Homo sapiens: one gene and its partners. The protein of the gene in region 1 purifies or fractionates together with the protein of each later gene. This does not show direct contact. Each region holds a gene or a part of one and is shown in the gene's direction. Other genes may lie near its edges. The genes, in order: CD1B, KCNJ8, ULBP3, MAN1A2, DIPK1A, PODXL2 and PCYOX1L.

Region 1 (4,111 bases):
GAGTCTGGGAATGTTGTTAAGAGATACATACATTGAAATTTGGAGAGCTGCTCTGTATTTATCAATTAGGCAGTAATAATCTTGGATGAAGGCTAGTCTTATTAATGTTGTGAACCAGTCTTATTAATGTTGTGAACCAGTAGTGTCCCCAGGAATAGAGAACACTACACTACTCACTTTGCATTTTCTTATCCACATAATAGAATTAGTTAGTGATAACCCTCTTTACTCGGAATCGATTGCTGCCACATTTCTGCATGATACATAGATCTCTGCAAATATGTGATTTTTTTCCTAAATGGAGAAAATCCAAAAATTCTTCTTAAAATTTTTCATGGGCATACAAGAAGATAGGAGGTGACATCTTAAAACAAGTATCTCTGAACTTTTTGTATAAAAAAAAGCAACCTCTTTGCTCTATTATTAATACCACATGTGGTGATATGAATGCCCAAATGTAGACAGCAGTTATGAGATATTACAAGAGAAGAAAAAAGCTCTGCCGCTTATGGCAACTTACCCAAAAAGTTATCTTTGACTTAGGCTGGAGGTGCACATAGCATAGCTCCTAGAGTTCTGTTTATGTCATGAATATTTGTTACTCAAAACTCCATAGGCCAAGAGCTCCTGAAGAGAAGGTCACATGCTAGCAGCAATTGTCATTTTTTCCCTCAAATATTGCTATAGTATAATTTTGTTTGAATTATAAACTTCAGTCTTTATTATATTTGATTCTGGCATTTTGGTTTGTAGTGCTATAGTACAGGAAATGTTTTAAATGCTTTGCCTTTATGTAAGTGAATATCGGTACACACACATACACATACACACACAGACACAGACACACACACACACACACTCACAGCCAGTTTAGAATGTGGGGTAAGGAACACCAGACAAAGAGGGCAATATAAGAAAGAGAAGACATTGAAAACATTGGGAAGAGGCAGTAACAGAGTGCCAGAGAAGATAAGGCAGCTGGGAGGGGGAGAAACTAAGTGAGGTGGATAAACTAAAAGCATCCTTCTGGGTTAAAGCAGACTAAAAGCTTAGCAATTGCTTAATATCACCATCTTATCCTATAGATGTGGGAATAAAGGCTAAGGAAGGAGAAATGAAAATGCAGAATCATATGGGGGCTTTTCCAAGGAGGTATGAAGGAAGGTGAGGACAGGGAGAGCGGCTGGAAGTCAGGGGGTAAGAGAAACTCTAAAAATCAGGGCTTGAGGGAAATAAAAGGTGAGGTAAGAGGCTCAGGGCTGTGGGAGGCACATTTTTCTCTGAAAAGCAGTTTGGATGAGGAAGAGATTTGGCAGTTGGAAGAGAGAAGAAGTCACTACAGGGTACTGAGGAAAAGCTTTGCTGAAATTGGAGATCAAATACCAGCTCTGCCAGTAAGAAGTTGCATCTCCCAGTGAAATGCTGCTGCTGCCATTTCAACTGTTAGCTGTTCTCTTTCCTGGTGGTAACAGTGAACATGGTAAGAGTCACTCTGGCAGCTCCCAGCACTGGTGCAGGGGTTTGGATTTTAAAAAGCAAGCAGGGCTTTCCTAGGTGCAATTGGACACTAAGGGTCTGGGTCTTTCTGTCTCCCGCCCTCTTCAACCATTCTGGTGGTTGGGACTAGAACCTGAAGCCTTAAGGCAGTCAAATGTGTCAGACTTCCTGTGTTCTTTAGACTCTAGGTTCTTGTTTTCTAAATCATTTTCATTCCCATTCTTCCTAATTGTCTCCTGCTTCTCTCTTTATCTTCACCATCTTGCTTTTCCACTCTTCACAGCCTTCCAGGGGCCGACCTCCTTTCATGTTATCCAGACCTCGTCCTTTACCAATAGTACCTGGGCACAAACTCAAGGCTCAGGCTGGTTGGATGATTTGCAGATTCATGGCTGGGATAGCGACTCAGGCACTGCCATATTCCTGAAGCCTTGGTCTAAAGGTAACTTTAGTGATAAGGAGGTTGCTGAGTTAGAGGAGATATTCCGAGTCTACATCTTTGGATTCGCTCGAGAAGTACAAGACTTTGCCGGTGATTTCCAGATGAAATGTGAGTCTAGTCCACCGAACTGGGAAGAGTCTCAAGGACTCTCTTTTCTCTCTTTTTTGCAAAGTGTTGCTCTCTCTGATGCTTCTCCCTTCCTTTCTATTTTACCCAAATGCACGCACATGCTTTTCTTGAGTAGTCTCTCACTCCAGCTTCACACCATCACACCTCATATTTCAGATTCTTGCTGCCTCTGCACTCTTCTCTTACTCTCAGACTGTCTTCCACTTTGTAACCAGCTGCTGGTTTGTCTTATGTGAAACTTCTCCTCAAGGGCCCTTACTTCTCCTACCCTGTGCCTGAGTGATCTAACGTGTGGCTTTCTCCCCTAATCCATCTTTTCAATCATCTCCTCCCCGCACCCTCCTCTTGCTGGGAACCTCCACTCACTCTGGAATGCTGCACTCCTGACTGCACCACGCTCTGCCTCACCTCTCCTTTCATACTCACTGTACTCCTTTATCACATACCTTTGTCTTCATGGCATGCACATTTTTCTCAATGCTCTTGTTTCTGAAAATGTCTAAATGTTATCATTAGTTTTTAGCTCATCATCATTTTACACCAAATAACTTTATCCCCACCAAAATCTAAAATCCTAGGTTCTTTTCTCATGCCTTTTTTTCTTATTTGTGTTTAATAACTTGCTCTCTTTTCCCTCTACATAGACCCCTTTGAGATCCAGGGCATAGCAGGCTGTGAGCTACATTCTGGAGGTGCCATAGTAAGCTTCCTGAGGGGAGCTCTAGGAGGATTGGATTTCCTGAGTGTCAAGAATGCTTCATGTGTGCCTTCCCCAGAAGGTGGCAGCAGGGCACAGAAATTCTGTGCACTAATCATACAATATCAAGGTATCATGGAAACTGTGAGAATTCTCCTCTATGAAACCTGCCCCCGATATCTCTTGGGCGTCCTCAATGCAGGAAAAGCAGATCTGCAAAGACAAGGTTAGTCCTGCTGTTATTTCACTTCCCACCACCTCCTCTAAGATCAAGAGTAGGAAGATATCAAAGGATAGGAGCTTAAATAACAAGTTATTTGGTTCCCAAAGGAGTGAATGGGGTCGCTGTCCAAGCTTGTAGGTTTCTGAGTTCATAACCTCTGAACTCGAGTTATAACATGACACTTTTTTTTCTCCTTCCTGCCTTAGTGAAGCCTGAGGCCTGGCTGTCCAGTGGCCCCAGTCCTGGACCTGGCCGTCTGCAGCTTGTGTGCCATGTCTCAGGATTCTACCCAAAGCCCGTGTGGGTGATGTGGATGCGGGGTGAGCAGGAGCAGCAGGGCACTCAGCTAGGGGACATCCTGCCCAATGCTAACTGGACATGGTATCTCCGAGCAACCCTGGATGTGGCAGATGGGGAGGCGGCTGGCCTGTCCTGTCGGGTGAAGCACAGCAGTTTAGAGGGCCAGGACATCATCCTCTACTGGAGTAAGAAATAGCAGGGACCCAGGCTGGAAATGCCAGGAAGTGATCTTCAGGCATAGAGGGAGGCACTGGGGAAGGATAGAGCTTGAGAGATGAAAGAGGGAGAGATTGATTGATTGATTTCCCTGACCCCAATCCCAACAGGAGTAAAAATAGATAATCCAAGTTATCAAAAATGTAGGAATTAAGGACCTGTAAACTGGGTAGAGGGGATCAAAGGATGGATATATGGTGGCCAGGAATATGAGAGAGGAAGTTGGAAATGACCATACATTGGAAGTAGGTGGGCAAAGGAAGGCCAAGGAATTCTGTGTATAGTATCTGAAGTGACATCCTTTTGTCCTCTCTCAATTGCCAGGAAACCCCACCTCCATTGGCTCAATTGTTTTGGCAATAATAGTGCCTTCCTTGCTCCTTTTGCTATGCCTTGCATTATGGTATATGAGGCGCCGGTGAGTTGTGGGTGGTGTTGTTTTTTTTTTTAATATGTCTTTTCTGTTCACCCTTCCACTGTTTTTTACCATTTTATCTATTTAAAAATTGTTTATCCTCAATCCTTTCACCATATCCTTTCCCCAAACTCCCATTCGTTTTATGTGGACTTAAAAAAAATTCTGTTAAAATACACATAACATAAGGTT
Region 2 (3,500 bases), on another chromosome or scaffold:
AATGGTAACAGCAAACCTTAAAAATCTTCATTCTCTCCCAATGAGAATGTAAAAGGTGACTAATAATAATTCTAATTCTTTGCATTTTTCCCTTTGTGAATTCAATGTCCAACCATATCACTAAAATTGGAAACAACATTTTTCATTGAATATTCACCAGTATTTCCAAATAATGTTTGACCATTCTTCTCTTAGGGTGACTCATTTTCTCCTCCATGTATTTTCTCCTGCAAGGAGTCTCTTTGACTCCATTTAATATGAGTCAAAAAATAGACCAATATATTTCCTCTTTCTCGATATTATCCAGCCTACCTCTTTCTGTAACAGAACAAAGAAACAGCTAAACACTTTTATCTCTTGAGATTGTTTAGCATAGCAAGTGTCAGTAAAAAGCTGGGTCTTGTACCATATGTAATATTTAGAATTCATAAACAATATACAAAATGTGGCTCATGAATAGTCTCTTAAACCATTAAAACAAACTATTTGGGATATTTATCATTAGACTGCTCTCTGAGGTATGGATACATTATCAGAAATCAGTGTTGTATCCATACCCCTTCTCTGGGGTCCATTTTTATTCTTGCCATGTTTTGGGGCTATACCAGATATCTTTTTGTGGGTAGTTAGTGCAATAGGCAATTACTGTAGTTTTCCATGAATCATTTTAGCAACAAAAGAGAAAGGCAACTTTCGCACTTCACTTAAAAGCTAATCAAAAGAATAATCCATGTATTCTTGCTTATCCCTCATAATTTTCTACCAAAGTGCACTGTACATACCAAGTACTCAAATGTTTAAACATTTTTCTCACCTGCTGTCTGTAGCATTAATAAATAGGTAATACTTTGAGAGATTGCTAATGTGTAGGCTTGTCTTCTATAAAGTTAGAGAAGTTTGAAATTGTGGTTGGGGGCAAAGATAGAACTAATATTGTTTCTATGAAGAAGCCACAGCAGTACTTGTTGTGAAATTAAGTGTTATAAATTGATAGTAACAAATGTGGTGCTTCCCATATGGGAGTAAATCAGAATCCCCTGAGAACTTTTCAAAAGCATCTTACCCAGATCCAACCTCAGCCTACCAAATCAATGTCTATTCACTAAGATAGGGAGTAGATGTGCAATTTGAAAAAGCTTCCCAAGAAAATCCTACAACTTCTTGGTTCCTTCCCTCTGCTTCTTTCACAGGATTAGGCCAAAGTGAGAAAATTCAAGTTAGTATAATATTAATTACAGGTATACCTTAGAGATATTGCAGTTTTGGTTCCAGACCATTGCAATAAAGCAAATATCAAAATAAAGACAGTTACACAAACCTTTTGTTTCCCAGTGCATATAAAACATTTATATTATATTGTAATCTAGTAAGTGTGTAATACCATTATGGCTGAAAAATATACATATCTCAATTCAAAAAATATTTTAATGCTAAAAAATGCTAATGTTCATCTGAGCCTTCTGCAAGATGTGGTCTTTTTGCTGGTGGAGGGGCTAGCCTTGATATTGATGGCTGCTGATTGATCTGGGTAGTGGTTGCTCAAGGTTGGGGTGGCTGTGGCAACTTCTTAAAATATGACAATGAAGAGTTTGCTGCAACAATTGACTTTTCTTTTCACAAAAGATTTATCTGTAATGTGTGATGCTGTTTGATAGCATTTTACCCACAGTAGAACTTCTTTCAAAACTGGAGCTAATCTTCTCAAAACCTGCCACTGCTTTATCAACTAAATTTATGTAATCTTCTGAATTCTTTGTTGTCATTTCAACAGTGTTCACAGCATCTTCACCAAGAGTAGATTCCATCTCAAGAAACCACTTTGGTTGCTTGTCCAGAAGAAGCAACTCCTCATTCATCCAAGTTTTATCATGAGATTGCAGCAATTCAGTCACATCTTCAGAATGCCCTTGTAATTCTAATTCTCTTGCTATTTCTACCACATGTGCAGTGACTCCCTCCACTGAAGTATTGAACCCCTCAAACTCATTCATGAGAATTAGAATGAACTTCTTCCCAACTCCTGTTAATGTTAATATTCTGACCTCCTCCCGTGAATCACAAATGTTCTTAATGGCATCTAGAATGGTGAATCCTTTCCAGATGGTTTTAAATTTACTTTGCCCAGCTCCATCACAGGACTCACTATCTATGTCAGCAATAGCCTTATGAAATGTAAATTTCTTAAGTAATAGGCCTTAAAAGTCGAAATTACTCCCTGACTCATGGCTGTAGAATGGATGTTGTGTTAATAAGCATAAAAACAGCAATCAACTCCTTCTACATCTCCATCAGAGCACTTGAGTGACTAGGAGCATTGTCAATGGGCAATAATATTTTGGAGGAATCTTTTTTTCTGAGCAGTAAGTCTCAGCAGTGGGCTTCAAATATTTAATAAATCATGCTGCAGACAGATATGCTGTCCTCTAGCCTTTATAGTTCTACTTATAGAGCATAGGCAGAGTCAATTTAGCATAATACTTTGGGGCTCTACGATTTTCAGATTGATCAATGACCATTGGCTTCAACTTGATGTTACCAGCTGCATTAGTTCCTAACAAGAGTTAGCCTGAACTTTGATGCTTTGAAGCCAAGCATTGACTTCTATCTAGTTATGAAAGTCCTGGGTAACATCTTCTTCCAATAGAAAGCTGTTTCATTTTCAACACTGAAAATCTGTTGTTTAGTGCAGCCACCTTTACTAATTTTCTTAGCTGGATCTTTTGGATAACTTGCTGCAGCTCCTCCATCAGTACTTGGTGCTTCACCTAGCACTTTTCTGTTTTGAAGGTGGCTTCTTTTCTTAAGCCTCCTGAACCAATCTCTTCTAGCTTTAAACTTTTCTTTTGCAGCTTCCTCACCTCTCATCCTTCATAGAAATGAAGAGAGTTAGGGCCTTGCTCTAATTCAGGCTTTGGCTTAGGGGAATGTTGTGACCTAGTTGGTCTTTTATCCAGACCACTCAAATTTTCTGCATCTCAGCAATGAGGCTATTTTGCTGTCTTATCATTTGTGTCTTCACTGGAGTAGCACTTTGAATTTTTTTCAAAACTTTTTCTTTCCACTGTTCACAACTTGGCTGTTTGGCACAACAGGCCTAAACTTTGGCCTATCGTGGCTTTTGACTTGCCTTCCTCACCAGCTTAATCATTTTTGCTTTTGATTTAAAGTGAGAGACAGCGAATATTTCCTTTACTCGAACACTTAGTGTTCTTTGTAGGGCTATTAACTGACCTAATTTCAATAGTGCTGTGTCTCAGGGAATAGGAAATCCTGATGAAAGGGGAAGAAACAAGGGAACAGCTGGTCAGTGGAGGACTCAGAACACACACATTTATCGATTGTTTGCCATCTTATATGGGCATGGCTCATGGTGCCCCAAACTAGGGGTTCCCAATCCTTGGGCTGCAGACCAGTACTAGTCTGTGGCCTGTTAGAAACCAGGCCACATAGCAGGAGGTGAGCAGTGGGGGAGCAAACATTACCTCCTGAGCTCTGCCTCC
Region 3 (2,785 bases), on another chromosome or scaffold:
CAAGAAGCCTCTGTTAGCCTGGTCTGGTTCCTGCTCTCCCTTCAGGGAGGCCGCCTGTCTACTCACCACTGTGCCTTTCTGGAAAGCAGGAGTTCAAGCCTTAGCAAGCCCAGAGGCCCCCAGCAGATGATGAGGACATTGTCGGCTCAACATCTCAGGCCACTCATTACCTTCGCTCATGATCCCAGCAGCCATTTTTCTTTTTTTTTTTTTGTTTTTTTTTTTTTTTGAGACGGAGTCTCGCTCTGTCGCCCAGGCCGGACTGCGGACTGCAGTGGCGCAATCTCGGCTCACTGCAAGCTCCGCTTCCCGGGTTCACGCCATTCTCCTGCCTCAGCCTCCCGAGTAGCTGGGACTACAGGCACCCGCCACCGCGCCCGGCTAATTTTTTGTATTTTTAGTAGAGACAGGGTTTCACCTTGTTAGCCAGGATGGTCTCGATCTCCTGACCTCATGATCCACCTGCCTCGGCCTCCCAGAGTGCTGGGATTACAGGCGTGAGCCACCGCGCCCGGCCAGCCATTTTTCTTAACACCTTCTGCCACTTTCTCTCGGTGCTAATGGATGGAATTCCTGCACAAGTTTTAACTGAACAAGAAATCCCAGCAAAAGGCATTTTCTTTCTACTTCTTTGATTGTGGAAAAGCAGACATTTCTCTGAAGCATGACCTTATTCTTCGAAACGGTATTGCTAGTAAAATAGCATGCAGGACTTCAGACCTCAGGGATCCTTTCCATGCACTGACCAAGAATTGTATTAATCCTTTTTATCATTATAGTTTTTTTACATTTTCTCATTCTGTCAACCATATTGGAGTGAAGTGGCATAGTCATCACTCACTGTAATCTCCAACTCCTGGGCTCAAGTGATCCTCTAGACTCAGCCTCTAGAGTAGCTGGGACTACAGGCGCATGCCACCATGCCTGGCAAATTGTTTTATATTTAGGTAGAGATTGGGTCTTCCTATGTTGCGCAGGTAATAAAACTGTGAAAATCCTGGAATATAAGCTAAGAAATACCAATGTGGACATAGGGCCTGGCAAAGATTTCATGAAGAAGACACTAAAAACAATTGTAACAAAAACAAAAATTGACAAATGGGACCTCATTAAACTAAAGAGCTTCTGCACAGAAAAAGAAACTAGCAACACGGTAAACAGACAGCGTGTAGAATGGGGAAACTATTTGCAAACTCTGCATCTGACAAAGGTCCAATATCCAGAATCTACAAAGTACTTAAACAATTAGACAAGCAAGAAAAAAAAACCCAATTAAAAAATGTGCAAAGACATGAACAGACACTTTTCAAAAGAAGACATACAAGTGGCCAACAAACGTGAAAAAATGCTCAATATCACTAATCATCAGATAAGTGCAAATCAAAACTGCAATGAGTTACCATCTCTTACCAGTCACAAAGTTGGAGATGGTGGTGAGGCTGCAGAGGAAAAGAAACAGACACTGTTGGTGGGAAAGCAAACTTGTTCAGCCGCTATGGAAAGCAGTTTGGAGATTTCTCCAAGAACTTAAAATAGAACTACCATTCAAGCCTGCAATCCCACTACTCGGGATATATCCACAGGAAAAGAATTCATTTTATCCAAAAGACACCTGCACCAATATGTTCATTACAGTGCTATTCTTACTAGCAAGGACACAGAATCAACCTAAGTGCCCAGCAACACTGAATTGAATGAAAAAAATGTGGTACATAAACACCATGGAAATCTATGCAGCCACCAAACACAGCAAAATCATGTCCTTTTCAGCAACATGGATGGAACTAGAGGCTATTATCCTAAGCAACCTAATGCAAGAACAGAAAACTACATACTGCATGTTCCCATTGGAAAGTGGCAGCTACACATTGAATTCACATGAACCAGAGGCACTGGAGATTACTAGACAGGTGAGACAGGAGGGGCACCTGGGCTGAAAAACCACCTGTTGGGTACCATGCTTACTGTTTGAGTGATGAGATCATTGGGACACCAAGCCTCAGCCTTCCAAAATCTACCCATGTAACAAACCTGTATGTGTACCCTTTAATCTATAATAAAGGTTAAAATTAAAGATTCGTAAGTAAAATAAAATGACATAGAGCCCTCCAAAAAATGGGGTTAACTGAGTGGAACGAGAGAACTTTGCACTATGAACGCTAACCCAGATCAAAAACTAAACTCTAGTCATTTAAAATAATCGTAAGTTGTATATGATGATAATTGTATAAAAGTTATACGTGAAAGTGCCAAACCCTAAAATTAAACACTGCATAATGAAATTATACAAGATTTCCATTTCCATCTTGTTCTTTATACCCTTACTTTTTTTTTTTTTTTTTTTTTTTTTTGCCAGTTTCAAGTGACATTTTTTTTGTTTATCCTCAGGAAATCCTTGCTGTCAGCCTTCTCCTTCTACACCCACCCCCTCCTTTTCCACCGTCCACATCAGCTCTTCCTCTGGTCTGGGACTGTGGCATTCTTGGCACTGAAGGCACAAGAGCTGCATTCAGCCTCAGGAGAGAGGAGGACACAGGGCAGGTTGTGGAGGTGGTCTCACCATTGGAGGGGAACCTAACAGCTTAGGCCCTCTATCACAGATGGCTGTGTTTCTCCACCAGGTTAGCTACAACCAAGCCAACCTTGCCCCTTTCCTCATTGTTTTTTTTCTAATTCTTCCCAACTCGTACTTGAAAATTTATATTCTTCCTCCTAATATTTCTTCGTATTTCTTGTCTGCACAATATATCCTGATTTATTGTGCCCAGAAAACAGTGGACTCACC
Region 4 (2,462 bases), about 41 Mb from region 1:
TAGAAACAGTATAATTAGTATAACATTTACTCTGAATTTGAAGATTTCCTGAAACAAAGTTTGTACAAGAAGCCCACCTTGGAATTCTGAAGGCTTATTTTCTTGTTTGATAAGCTTTTCTTTTAAACTTAGGTTTTAAGTTGGGGAAAGACTTAATTAACTAATATAGTATTTTCTAAGGTTGATCATCTTATACCACGAATCGTTAATTTTGACAGTTCTACTGATCCGTAAATGATAACCACTGCAAATTTTTTCAGTATAAAATTTTTCACTGCAAAAAAATTTCAGTAGAAAATAAGGATGCAGGGCCAGTTACAATAGTCCTTAAGAGAGTTAAATTATAGCACATGTTTTGACATTGTAATATCTTTTACTACTTGAACATTTAAATTTCTAAATGAGAAAGGTATATATATTACTGTAACTGTAGAAGGGAAAAGGGAAAGTATTTGGTTCTAAAAAATGTTAGCCTTCCTCGTAAAAGTAGCACAAGCCCACTTATGAATCACTGAGAAAAAGTGAAAAACTTGAGTTGGCAAAGATGCAGAGCAGCAGTGCAGATGGCAATGAACTCTCTGAATTCTCTTTTACCTTATTTAGAAGAATGCAGAGTAAAGGGACCTTCTTGGTTCTGCAGGAACTTCTCAAGGGATGAGGAGACAGAACCCCTACTTCCAAGTGCTCTATTTGTATTACCCAGATGACTGAAGCTTAAGAGAAGGCAGGGAAGTATACAAGCAGAGCCAGTTCTGGTACAAACAAAGAATTTGACAGGGACAATGGAAGGGTCTTCTTCACCACTCCTTACCTTCTATGTGATGGAAAGACTAGAGCTTATAAAAGTACTTCCATTTTTTTATTCTCCTGAATACCAAAGGCAATTAAAGTCAGCTACAAATGACTTGCCAGTGTCATGTTTTATTTTTGTTATAGATTTTTAAATTATTTCCTTCAAGATCAATTCTTATCCCATATAATGCTTAGCTTCCAAGAATATTCTTTACTTTCTTCTGTCTTTTACAGCTCTTTGCATTTTGTAGACCTTAATACTCAGGTTAAATATTCATTGCATTTATAAGATCTTCTGCAAAAAGCCCAGAAATGGTCCTTTTCAGGTGCCTCTTCAAAGAGCTGACACCTTACCTTGTGCCTTTGGCACAAATGTGCAGAATAGATACATCAGTTGGTGCATAATCGAAAAAAATAGGAATTTTGAACACTGTTCTTCCTTCTACATTTATTTCTCTTCATTTTAGAATCACACTTTTTATGTTAAACCAGATTATTATTATTATTATTATTCAACCAGTATTAAGTTGTTAAAACCAAGGGAATGGGGCCCTAACCAAAAAGAAGTCTCAACTCAGAAAAATAAGTCCCCAGTCAGGTGGTTCTTACTTTCTTGTGGGTTGCACATTTTGTATCTCTCTAACATCAGCGTATTCCTGACTTTAAGCAGGTGTTTATATGTAAAATAAAACCTGGGTATCGAAGGGAAATGCATTCTTTTTATGGAGTATTGACCCTGATCCTCTATGATGTCATATAGAGCAACTCAGGGCTATACTTGCTAGATTTTAACCAAGCAGTTTGAAATATTAATCATCATCCTCTCATCTTCTCCACTCTCCATTGCCAAAGTCTTTGTCAAAACTCCAAATTTGTTGATAAAAGATTGTGTTTGCCATTCTCATTTATAATGCAGTTTCTCCTTAAGCCTGGAGTTTTTTGAATGAGTGCATGAGTAAATGAGAGAATGTGTGAACGAACATTTATGAAGTATCTAACATGTGCCAAGCATTGTGCCTGGCACTTTCAATCATTAGAATGTTTTATGTGATTCCACAGCATTTTCTGTATGAGAGTAGCTCACAACATTTTAAATGTTTCCAATATGAATCGTGTTACAAAATTCTTAATTTTATATTTCATATAAATTAAAGAGGAAAAAGAAAAGGTTTATAATATATTTTAAAACAATGTGTTACTGTATAATACAACTATAATTGTAGTTAATAACTAAAACCTCTTGAAAATGTCAAAGAAATACTTGATTTCTGATGCAACTTTGACTAAAATATTTACTTTAGAAATAAAAACGTTCTTATTTTGCTATATCACTTTAATTGCATAATTAAAAAGCAGTGTTTTATAGAAATGCTGGTTATTTTATATTCAAAAAGATTTTGTCACATAATTCATGGGTAAAACTTGCAGTTGTAAATTGTGTCTGCTCTGGTATGGGCCCTATTAATAGTCCCATGCTGTTAAATATAAAGAAAAATATACTAAAATATTCAAAGTTCCAAATAACAGTTCCTAGTAATAGTATTTTGAGTTATTTTTCTTTAGGTTTCCTTATACTCAAATTGGCTAGGTCCTATCTTTTCCTCTCTCTCTCTCTCTCTCTCTCTCTCTCTCTCTCTCTCTATATATATATATATATATATATATATATG
Region 5 (3,500 bases), about 65 Mb from region 1:
AATTGATTTAGCTAACATTTGCTGAATACTTACTACGTGCCCAGCAATATGCTTATGTTTTATAGGCATTATGTCATTTAATCTTATTTAGGTTCACAATATTAGTACATGTCGATTTCTGTCTGATGACCAAACCTCTTATTAGAGACGAGTCATCTTAAATATCTTTCAAACAAACCCCATGGTATATACCCCATTGTCTTTTATGTGATTTAATTTGGAGTTTAATCTGAACTTTCTTTTTACTTAGAGCAATACAAAAGTATCTTGCATTAAGGCACTTTTTCATTTTAATAATAAAGCTCAGAGACCTACAATTTTACTGAGAACTCATTGTACTCAAGCCTTTTGGTACAGGGATTCACCATCTGTTAACCTCACAAAGATATCTAAACCACAAATAGGGCCAATAGAATTCAGTATTTCCTGAGTCTCTTTTTCCTTTGCACTCATTGTCTTCTGCAGGTGTGCTTATGTCTCTCTCATCTCTTTCTGCTTCTTTGCATGCTCACAATGCTCACAATATCCTACTGTTCCCAGTGTGAGAAACTGGCTCGTGATTGTAAAAGCAAAACTAGCTTTTCATTGTTTGTTTACATATCTTTAATTTATTCTGCCGAATTCTCTTCGTAGTCCTCAGTTCTGCTGTTTATAAAACCAGACCATGGGTGCTACAGACTCAAAAAATAAATGTCAAATAGTCTTGATCAAGTGTCACTTTTGAAGATGAAACTGTTTGATATGTAATTGATGGAAAAAAGGCATCAACCAGCCCGAGTTGCAATTAGATACAAGAGCACTGGAAACAAAACAATGCAAAGAGGATCCTATTGTGCAGCTTTACACTTTGCAAGTTGATATGCAAAGAGTAACTTATTTTTAATATATCTTAACCCTTCTCCAGTCATTTCTCCTTTAACAATTGTTAGCGTCTCCTCAGTTTCCAGAATATCTATTCGGTGAAACATTTGGTTCGCTGAACAAGAGGAACATAAAGCCCTGGTGAATACAATAGGGAAATAGAAATGACTGTAGAGCTTAATTTCTTGTTCTGGTTGTCAGTATGAGACATTAGACAAATAGCCAGATTTTCTGTTCTTATTTCTTTAAAACAAAATTATTTTTATCATGATTTTCCTAAAGACCTTTAAGATTCTTATGTGAAAGAGTCTTTTGTAAGCTTCTAGTAAATAGGAATTGTACCTCTCTTTACCTGATCTCACAAGGTGCCCAGGGTAGCATGGTACATGTGCTTGTGCCTAAAAAGTAGCTTTGGATGATGGTGGTATTTGAAAGGTTATACATCTTAAAGGATATTTTGTTCCCTTTTTCCTTGGCAGGACCAAGGAGCTTCCTTTTCTAAGACCAGTGCTGTTTGGACTCAGTGAAAGTGCACTTTGTTCTAGAATTGCCATATAAAAGCCTGGAATATATATTGAGTTGTTCCAAGAAGGGTGAGAAGTCGTGTTCTAGGACATTGAATGCTGATTTGGTGCTGAATGAATGATCGTTATGTTCTTTTTTACTCACAGGCTCGCTTCTCATATGTGCGGATGAAATATCTTTTCTTTTCCTGGTTAGTGGTTTTTGTTGGAAGCTGGATTATATATGTGCAGTATTCTACCTATACAGAATTATGCAGAGGAAAGGACTGTAAGAAAATAATAGTAAGTATTTTAAATTTCCTGTTTACTAAAAAGCCTCTTCATAACACTATATTTACTGCTTACATACTTACTAATGATGTTTTTAAAAATAAAAGTTAATTTGACATTAGAATTGTGCTAATCTTCTTAGCTTTTTGACATGACCCATTAGTAAAGTTTTCCCCACTTTGAAAATTCCAGTGTTCAGAAATTTAAATATATAACACATAAATAAGTTAGTGTGGGGGCATCCTCAATACAAAGAAGGATTTTTATTATATATATATATATTTTTAATATATTTAAGTTTTAGTTTATTTCAATCAGATGAGTTTTTTAATGTTTAGACTATAAAAGCGTATTTACAGGCAGACTTTCTAGAACACATCTTTTACTCTTGAATACCAAAATTTATCTAAAAGGATTATTATTCTGTTTCTATCCTAGTGATTGGATGTATCTCAGAAAAATGACTGTATCAGTCTAAGATTTCTAGTAGTGATCATTAATTCTATAGACTTATATTTTAAAAATTTGAGAATTTCAAGTAAATTTAACTCCTTTTTTTCCACCAGTACTTTCTCTCTTTTTTTTTTTTTTTTTGAGACGAAGTCTTGCTTTATTGCCCAGGCTGGAGTGCAGTGGTACAATCTCAGCCTACTGCAACTGCCTCCCAGGTTCAAGCAATTCTCCTGCCTCAACCTCCCAAGTAGCTGGAATCACAGGCTCGCACTACCACGCCTGGCTAATTTTTGTATTTTCAGTAAAGACGGGGTTTCACCATGTTGCCCAGGCTGGTCTTGAACTCCTAGCCTCAAGTGATCCGCCCTCCTTGACTTCCCAAAGAGCTGGGATTACAGGCATGAGCCACCGCACCTGGCCTCTACCAGTACTTTCTAATATAAAGAATATTAAAACACTCCATCTCAGAATTATATTTGAATAGTAATGATTTGGAGGGTTCCAATTATTATAACTTGTTAAAGATTCTATAGTTGTTGAGTAGCTACTCTTTACCCAGGCCAGTGGTGTATGCATATAACAGGGAGCAAAATATCTTTGACCTTATAAAACTTACAGTGGATCAGGAAAGAAAATGAGTAATTACAGTAAGGTAAGATAAATAAGATAGCAACTGTTATGGGAACATAAGACGGAAACCTGGAGCTTCCCCAAGTTCTAAGAAAATAAAAACCAGTTTAACACAAGGTGCTTCATCAGTTAGGATACAAAAACACGTTATTCCACAGGAGTGTTACAGTCTTTTAACTAGGCAAGAGAGGGGAATGAGTTAGTAAAGAAGAGTCCTAAGTCAAGGTTCAAAGATAGCAATCCTGTGTTCATTCCAACTGGCCATTCTAGATCCTTAAGGAATTTTAAGATAGGAGGTATCTCTGGGGCCAATGTACTGGGTACTTTACATGTTCATTAATCCTTAGCATAATAGTGTACAGATAAAGAACTATGACCCAGAGAGACAGGAGAATTTGCCCAAGATGATGGAACCAGAATTTGATCCTAATTCTGTCTCTCTATGAAGCTCATACTCCTTCTGCTACCCTACATCAGAAAAGACTGACAGAAGAAGTTACAGTCTAATAAAGCTAATAAAACCCCACAAAACTCAGTTTCTAACCTTCAGTGAAGAAGGAGGAAACAGGAGGTAGATAATCAAGTTCAAAAACATACAAATAACCGAAACTATTTGAAATGTTTATTTCTCTTTCTCTAGGCCACCTTTCTCAAACTAGGTACCTTGGAGCACATTAATAGATATTCCATGGATAAAATATGTCCCTGGTCAGATGTATTTGGAAACAGAGGGTTAAATAAAGATAACAACTGACTTTACTA
Region 6 (3,500 bases), on another chromosome or scaffold:
ATATGTACAAAACATATGTGTACGTTCATTATATACAGAATATGTGTATTCTATAGAATATACATATACACAAAAATAGTGACCACTTATCACTCTTCTTTTTTATTTGAAGCACAGTGTAGTTAAGAGAACAGGCTTTGGAGTCAGGAAGGCTCCAGTGCTGTCATTTAACAGTGATGCAATTTTTGGCGAGTAACTAACCCTAAGCCTCAGTTTCCCATCTAGGAAATGGAGATAATTATATACCTACCTCACAGGGTTGTGAGGTTCACACACCATCATACATTTCGAGCACTCAGCTCAGTGCTTGGCACATTGTTAAGTGCTCTGTGACTATTAGCTATTATTATTACTTTCCTGTTTTTTTCTATTGAGTCTTTAATTTTTTCTTATCCCTGTACAAATCTGAAAAAGGATACTAACTTTCCTCTGACATACGTAGAAAACATTTTTCCAGTTTGTCAACTGCTTGTATTTTTATTATAATTTTTGGCATAAAGAAATTAAATATTTTATAAGCTTAAAATTACTTTTTTTTTCTTCGAGATGGAGTTTTGCTCTAGTCACCCAGGCTGGAGTGCAATGGTGTGATCTCAGCTCACTGCAACCTCTGCCTCCCAAGTTCAAGCAATTCTCCTACCTCAGCTTCCCAAGTAGCTGGGATTATAGGCATGTGCCACCACGCCCAGCTAATTTTGTATTTTTAGTAGAGATGGGATTTCACTATGTTGGCCAGGCTGGTTTCAAACTCCTGATCTCAAGTGATCCACCTGCCTCAGCCTCTCAAAGTGTTGGGATTACAGGCATGAGCCACCACACCCAGCAAAATTACTTCTTTTAAAATGTTTTTATGTGTTTTTCTTTACTTTATGATTAGAAAATACTTTCTGCCCTTGAGATACATGCACCTTTCTTCCTTCTATTCTTTTTTTTTAATGTAAATTCTTTTTTTAAAATTATTTTTATTTTTTGGACACAGGGTCTCGCTTTGTACCTCAGGCTGGAGTGCAGCAGCACAATCTCAGCTCACTGCAGCCTTGACCTCCTGGGCTCAATCGATCCTCCTGCTTCAGCCTCCCAGGTAGCTGGGACTACTGGTGTACCCCACCACGCCTGGTTAATTTTTCTGTTTTTTGTAGAGACAGGGTTTTGCCATGTTTCCCAGGCTGGTCTTGAACTCCTGGGCTCAAGCAATCCACCTGCCTCAGCCTCCCAAAGTGCTGGGATTACAGGTGTGAGCCAGCACGCCTGGCCCCTTCTATTCTTTAGCTTAATTTTTTACATTTAAGTCCAATCTAGCTGTAATTTATTTTTGTGTGTGGTGTAAGATAAGGATCTAATTTCATTTTCTCCATATAGATCATCTATTGTCATGGCGGCATCCATTGATAAATCTGTCCTCTTATCATTTTAAAGAAATGATATTTTGTTGCTGTTGTTGTTTTGAGATGGAGTCTCACTCTGTTGCCCAGGCTGGAGTGCAGTGGTGTGATCTCTGCTTACTGCAACCTCTGCCTCCGAGGTTCAAGTGATCCTCCTGCCTCAGACTCCCTGGTAACTGGGATTACAGGCGTGCCACCATGCCCAGCTAATTTTTGTAATTTTAGTAGAGGTGGGTTTTACCGTGTTGCCCAGGCTGACTGAACTCCTGACCTCAAGTGATCACCCACCTTAGCCTCCCAAAGTATTGTGATTACAGGTGTGAGCCGCTGTGCCTGGCCAAGGAATGATTTAAACAAACTTTTACATTGTACCAGACAATTATTGGGTCTTTTTCTGGCCTTTCCCTTTTGTTGAGACTATTGAGCGTCTAGTGTGAGGTAAGCAGTCACGCAGAGAGCATTGGCCTCAGGACCACAGTGGAGGGCCCTGAAGCCTTGATGAGCTCGATTTGTTGTCCTCCCCCCTCCCCAGGGGATTCGTTTCCCTTTCTTTTTCTTTCAGTTCATGTCTCTTCCTCTCCCATTTCCTTCCCTAGGTCTCATAAGAATAAAAATAGCTCTCATTCATTGAATACCGGCTATGCATAGGCCTTTGCCTCGATTGTCTCTAGTCCTCACCACAGCTGCATACAGCTTGGCTGTGAGGTGGAGATACCAATCACCCTACCCAGGATGGGCAGAAGGCTAGGGAGGTGCAGGGAGGAGGCCAGGAGGCAGAGGAGGTGCAGGGAGGAGGCCAGGAGGCCAGGCAGGTGCAGGGAGGAGAGTTGCTTCAGTCCTGTCCCTCATTGCTCCTCTCTTGACCTGTCCCCTCGCCTTACGTTTCCTCAGGTCAATCTCTTCTCTGTACTACCTGACCATGATCCTGTGAAAAAACTGGAGTTGCCCATCTTCTTCTCAAACAAACTAGCAAACAAACCCCTTCTCAAACCCCAAAGCCCACAGGTTAAAGGCTGAACTTATTAGCATGGCAGAAAATGCTCTTGATAGTCCGGCCCCAGCCTTCCCCAGCCTCTTCTCCTTCCTTGCTCCAGCATGCATCTGATTAGCTCATCATCAGCTTGTTCTCTTCCTTGCTTGGCAGAGTTGAACTGAGGCATGGGGAAGTAGGGTGCTTTGCCCAAGGACACATTGCTTGGATGTAATGGAGCTGGATCTAGAGTCAGTGTCTTCTCACTGACAACAGCCTGGCCTATTCCCTAAGCCTGTGATGCACTTGTTCCTCTTGTCCCATCTGCTGGGAAGCTCTTCTCCATCCTGATGTGCTAGTGGATATGTATTCGTCCTTGAGTACCTAGCTCAAGAGGACTAGCTTCAAGAGGCTTTTGCCAGCTCTGACCAATGAGCAGGACCAGTGCACGTGGTTATGCTGGTGGTGCCCTGTCCGGGGCTCCTGACCGAGCATGGGAGTTGGAGCTGAAGTCCAGCATACACCCTGCCAACCAGGCCATGGGCTGGGTGGGAGGAGCACCTTTTTCTAATTCATTTGCCCAGAGGGGACATCTCCGTGTACTGGCAGTGGCCCTGAAATCAGGCTAGTGACCCCTGCTTCTGTTTTCTTGCAGCACCTTGATGGCATATGATTAGGACATGACAGAAGAGAAAGTGGCTAAGGTGGCAGGCTGACAGCGAATAGTCAGGCTGGTGTAGGAGGCAGCCCAGGGGACAGTGGCGTGCCCTACCCCCCTATTCTTGTCTGCTCTTGTGCCCCGGAGCCACAGGCTTCTGTCTAGGGGTTCTTGGGGAGAAGGAGGTGGATCACCTCTTGGGGGTTGGAGGAGTCAAAAGAACCTTGAGAGGGCATGCCTGGGTTGGGAGTCCTGCAGAGTCCAGATTGACTGTGCCAAGTGCTATCCTAACATGGCCATTAGGGACATTGAACTCCATGCAGCAGTAGCAGGGACTGCTGAAAACCATGCTGCAGACAGGCCAATCTCAGATCAAGTACAAGTACATCAATCAATGTATTCAACACCCAGTATGTGCCCAGCACTATGTTAGGGGTTGTGGGTTCTCATTTAACGTCCACTGAAAAATGTAAGTATATATTCTTACTTC
Region 7 (3,500 bases), on another chromosome or scaffold:
CCCTCTGAAGGAGGCAGCCAGCCCTCCACCGCAGCCATCTGCAGCCAGCCGTGTACAATGCCCACCTCATGTGGCTAGATCTACTCACTTTTCAGAAGAAGCTGGAAATCCAGAGTCGTGTGTGAAATCTTTTCAGTTTTTCAACATTTGCAACCAATTCATCTTGTAAGCCAAATGAAACACTTCTGCAGGGCAGATGCAGCCTGTGGACCACTCATTTGCAAACTTTGTTGTCCTCATTTTTCCATCTAGAATAAACACCTTTCTTCACCACTCCTCCTATCCCTGGGCTCCAGCCCCCTCCCCATCACCTTTGGTCCCAGATGTGGAGGGCAAGTGGTCTGTTCCCTCCCTGTTCACCAAGCTGTCACTCCACCTTTCCCCAAAGTCCCTCCTGAAGGTGCTCCCTGCTTCCAGCCTAAGGCGCAGGGGCTGCTCCCCGGACCCCATCACTGTCTGCCTCCCTTCAGTGTCACTCAAGTGTGGCCTGTGCCCTCCTGCCCTGGTTCCTGGCACTTCTCCACTCCCTTCCCATTCTATAACTCTGCTGTTTATAGCACTTCTTCCTTATATTCTCCAGATGTCACCCAAAGCTTATTTCCTTACCTCTCTTTCTGATATTTTTCTCCCTTATCAATTATATCCAGACCAATAATGTTGACTTCTACGTTTTATGGGAAATGACTTCTCCCTCTCAGCCCTAGTTTCCTCTTCACTTCCAGACCCACATTTCAACTTTCTGGACACCTCCATCTCGTGTCCTATTGATAACCAAACTCAACATGTTTACAAAAGAAGCCCTAGAATGGGCAACATTTCAAAGGCCAGCCAGTCAGGAAATCCATCGATGGTTCCAATCCATGCTAGTGAGATTGCATGAGTGATAGAGCGACAGGACATGAGCCTGGGGGTGAGTGGGAGCCCTGTCAGATGAAGCGAGAGGAGAGGACAGGCTGGACTGGCAGAGAAGGTGACAGTATCAGCATGAAGTTGCAGTGTGTCATCAGGTCCTAGAAGCTGTGGCAGAACCGACACTGTTGGAGAAGGAGATGTGTCAGCAGGGGTGGGCCGTAGCCCCAGCTGGGTGAAGAAAGGGTTATGAACTATGACCTCAGGCAGGGAGTGGCTCAGAGCAGTGATACAGTTGTTACTCAGCACAGCCGTGATGTGAAGCCAGGCCTAGAAGGATTCCATACCTTCACACTCCCTTTAGGTGGGACAGGCCCGCCACAGTCAGAGAACAGGTGCCAGGGAACATGACCAGCCTCTTCTGCCACCACTCCATGTAGAGGAAGTGATGGGTTCCTGGTGGGCCTCCCAGGCACTATAACCCAGGGGCAGGTGGTCAGGCAAAAAGCCTTCCTGCACAAGGACTCCAGCTCTATGTGTCTTCTAGGATCTATAAGTACCAGGCCCACGGCTATGCCTTCTCGGGTGTGGAGGAGCTGCTCTACTCACTGGGGGAGTCCACCTTTGTTAACATGACCCAGCACTCTGTGGCTGAGTCCCTGCTGCAGGTGGGCGTCACGCAGCGCTTTATTGATGATGTCGTTTCTGCTGTCCTGCGGGCCAGCTATGGCCAGTCAGCAGCGATGCCCGCCTTTGCAGGTAAGCGTCCAACCCTTGGCCTGCCCACCTGCCCCTCCTCCACCCAAGGTGCTCAGAATGGGCTGGGGGTCCCCATAATAACCTCACTTTTATCCAGCTCATTGCAGTCACATAGGCACTCTGCTGCCCCATCCTGCCTGATTCTGGGACTGGCCATGAGTTGGCAGGAGATAGTATCACCCCACTTCACAGACAGTGAAAGCAAGGCTCAGATCACAGGTCCAGTGTGTTTCTACCACTCCCAATTGCTTCATAATCCCTTGCATGTGTGTAAATGTTAGAGCTGAGATAATGCTCTGCTCTCTACACTTTGGTTTCAAGAACTGCCCTGTTGAGGCCTTTGAGCCACTGTGAGAGCACCTCCTCTTCCCAGCTCTTCACGGGAGTGGCTGGGCCTGTGTGTAGCTCACTGTCTGCTAGCACAGACCACAGGAGTGGAGAATGTAGGCTTCACAAGAGCAGGAATCCTTGTCTATTGTTCCCTGATACATTGCAAACACAGAACAGTGCCTAAGTCATACTAGGCACTGGGTATATTTTTGTTAAATAAATGAATGCAAAGGTTTACAATAACAAGCACCTCCCTCGTACCCTCGATACTGTTCATCTGGCTCTGCACATGCTGGCTCCTTCGCAGCCTTCAGGCCCTGCCTCAGTGTCCCCTCAGTGTTCCTTGCTCACTCTTTCAGTATCTTGTGTGTCTCCTTCATAGCATTTTTGTGTAGAGATATATAGAATTCACATACCATATAATTCGCCCATTTAAATTGCACAATTCAGTGGTTTTTAGCACATTCGGAGTTCTAAAACCATCACCACAATCAATTTTAGGACATTTTTATCACCCCAGAAAGAAACCCCCTTGCCCTTTAGCCCTCACCTCCCCAACACCCCCCGGCCTCCCAGCCCTGGGCAGCTACAGATCTGCTTTCTGTTTCTGTGGATTTGCCTAGTCTGGGCATTCTGCATAAATAGACCTCACAATATGTGGTCTCTGGGAGCTGGCTCTTTCGTTGAGCACAGTGTCTTCCCCCCATAGCATTGTGCACTTTGTTGTACTTACTTGTATGTTTGCCATCTCCCCATGCCCATGGTTGGGAGAGTTTTGCTCTGGCAGGGAGGCCCAGTCGAATAGTACTGGACTCCCCAGCCCTCCTGCCCCACGGCCCTGACAACCTATCAGCACCCACTTCCCGCTTTGCCCAGGAGCCATGTCACTAGCCGGGGCCCAAGGCAGCCTGTGGTCTGTGGAAGGAGGCAATAAGCTGGTTTGTTCCGGTTTGCTGAAGCTCACCAAGGCCAATGTGATCCATGCCACAGTGACCTCTGTGACCCTGCACAGCACAGGTGAGTAGACAGGGCGGGAGTGGGCAGGCATGCCATTCCCAGCCAGTGGACAGACACTTCTGCCTCCTTTGTACCTCAGCCCTGGTCTGTGATCCCCCTGGGGAGTATTTCCGAAAAAGCATTGAGAAGCCCCAACCCTGCCAGGTGACACTAGAGGGTGCTGTTTCCCCAATTCAGATGTCAGCCAGAAAGCTGAGACTTCCATCGACCCAGCCTTTTTCTGTTGACCGATGAGGACTTTGAATGACATCCTTGCCCACGCTCCCCCAACTGGCCAGCGGCGGAAGCAGAGCAGAAACTGAGTCTCCTGACTCCATGCCCCTTGCTTCTTCTGCAGCCGCATCAGCATGGAGAGGCCAGGACCCACCATTTAGACAGCCCTGCTGCACCCTGAGCACCAGGGTCTCGTTGTACCTCAATGCTGGACCCCAGTAGGGAGTTCAGTGGGTAGAAGCCAAGGGAAAGTTGACTTTTGTGCTCTTTTCTTTCCAGAGGGGAAAGCCCTGTACCAGGTGGCGTATGAGAATGAGGTAGGCAACAGCTCT

What was found.
Region 2: the proteins of CD1B (region 1) and KCNJ8 purify together in Homo sapiens (affinity purification with mass spectrometry; 3 studies listed by BioGRID and IntAct, with this or other methods). This does not show direct contact.
Region 3: the proteins of CD1B (region 1) and ULBP3 purify together in Homo sapiens (affinity purification with mass spectrometry; 3 studies listed by BioGRID and IntAct, with this or other methods). This does not show direct contact.
Region 4: the proteins of CD1B (region 1) and MAN1A2 purify together in Homo sapiens (affinity purification with mass spectrometry; 3 studies listed by BioGRID and IntAct, with this or other methods). This does not show direct contact.
Region 5: the proteins of CD1B (region 1) and DIPK1A purify together in Homo sapiens (affinity purification with mass spectrometry; 3 studies listed by BioGRID and IntAct, with this or other methods). This does not show direct contact.
Region 6: the proteins of CD1B (region 1) and PODXL2 purify together in Homo sapiens (affinity purification with mass spectrometry; 3 studies listed by BioGRID and IntAct, with this or other methods). This does not show direct contact.
Region 7: the proteins of CD1B (region 1) and PCYOX1L purify together in Homo sapiens (affinity purification with mass spectrometry; 3 studies listed by BioGRID and IntAct, with this or other methods). This does not show direct contact.

What each region holds. Positions count from the first base shown.
Region 1 is NC_000001.11:158,328,732-158,332,842, reverse strand, and holds the start of CD1B (T-cell surface glycoprotein CD1b precursor), read left to right. Parts: upstream 1-1,311; 5' UTR 1,312-1,419; coding exon 1,420-1,480; intron 1,481-1,780; coding exon 1,781-2,047; intron 2,048-2,712; coding exon 2,713-2,991; intron 2,992-3,194; coding exon 3,195-3,473; intron 3,474-3,828; coding exon 3,829-3,922; intron 3,923-4,111. UniProt on the Homo sapiens protein: Antigen-presenting protein that binds self and non-self lipid and glycolipid antigens and presents them to T-cell receptors on natural killer T-cells.
Region 2 is NC_000012.12:21,768,207-21,771,706, reverse strand, and holds part of KCNJ8 (ATP-sensitive inward rectifier potassium channel 8), read left to right. Parts: intron 1-3,500. UniProt on the Homo sapiens protein: Inward rectifier potassium channels are characterized by a greater tendency to allow potassium to flow into the cell rather than out of it.
Region 3 is NC_000006.12:150,060,553-150,063,337, reverse strand, and holds the end of ULBP3 (UL16-binding protein 3 precursor), read left to right. Parts: 3' UTR 1-2,285; downstream 2,286-2,785.
Region 4 is NC_000001.11:117,524,449-117,526,910, forward strand, and holds part of MAN1A2 (mannosyl-oligosaccharide 1,2-alpha-mannosidase IB), read left to right. Parts: 3' UTR 1-2,462. UniProt on the Homo sapiens protein: Involved in the maturation of Asn-linked oligosaccharides. Progressively trim alpha-1,2-linked mannose residues from Man(9)GlcNAc(2) to produce Man(5)GlcNAc(2).
Region 5 is NC_000001.11:92,874,463-92,877,962, reverse strand, and holds part of DIPK1A (divergent protein kinase domain 1A), read left to right. Parts: intron 1-812; exon of another isoform or gene 813-1,002; intron 1,003-1,532; coding exon 1,533-1,667; intron 1,668-3,500.
Region 6 is NC_000003.12:127,642,685-127,646,184, forward strand, and holds part of PODXL2 (podocalyxin-like protein 2 precursor), read left to right. Parts: intron 1-3,500. UniProt on the Homo sapiens protein: Acts as a ligand for vascular selectins. Mediates rapid rolling of leukocytes over vascular surfaces through high affinity divalent cation-dependent interactions with E-, P- and L-selectins.
Region 7 is NC_000005.10:149,364,546-149,368,045, forward strand, and holds part of PCYOX1L (prenylcysteine oxidase 1-like isoform 1 precursor), read left to right. Parts: intron 1-1,396; coding exon 1,397-1,608; intron 1,609-2,814; coding exon 2,815-2,955; intron 2,956-3,447; coding exon 3,448-3,500. UniProt on the Homo sapiens protein: Likely to have oxidoreductase activity. Required in the mevalonate pathway to regulate prenylation and enhances the bactericidal activity of neutrophils.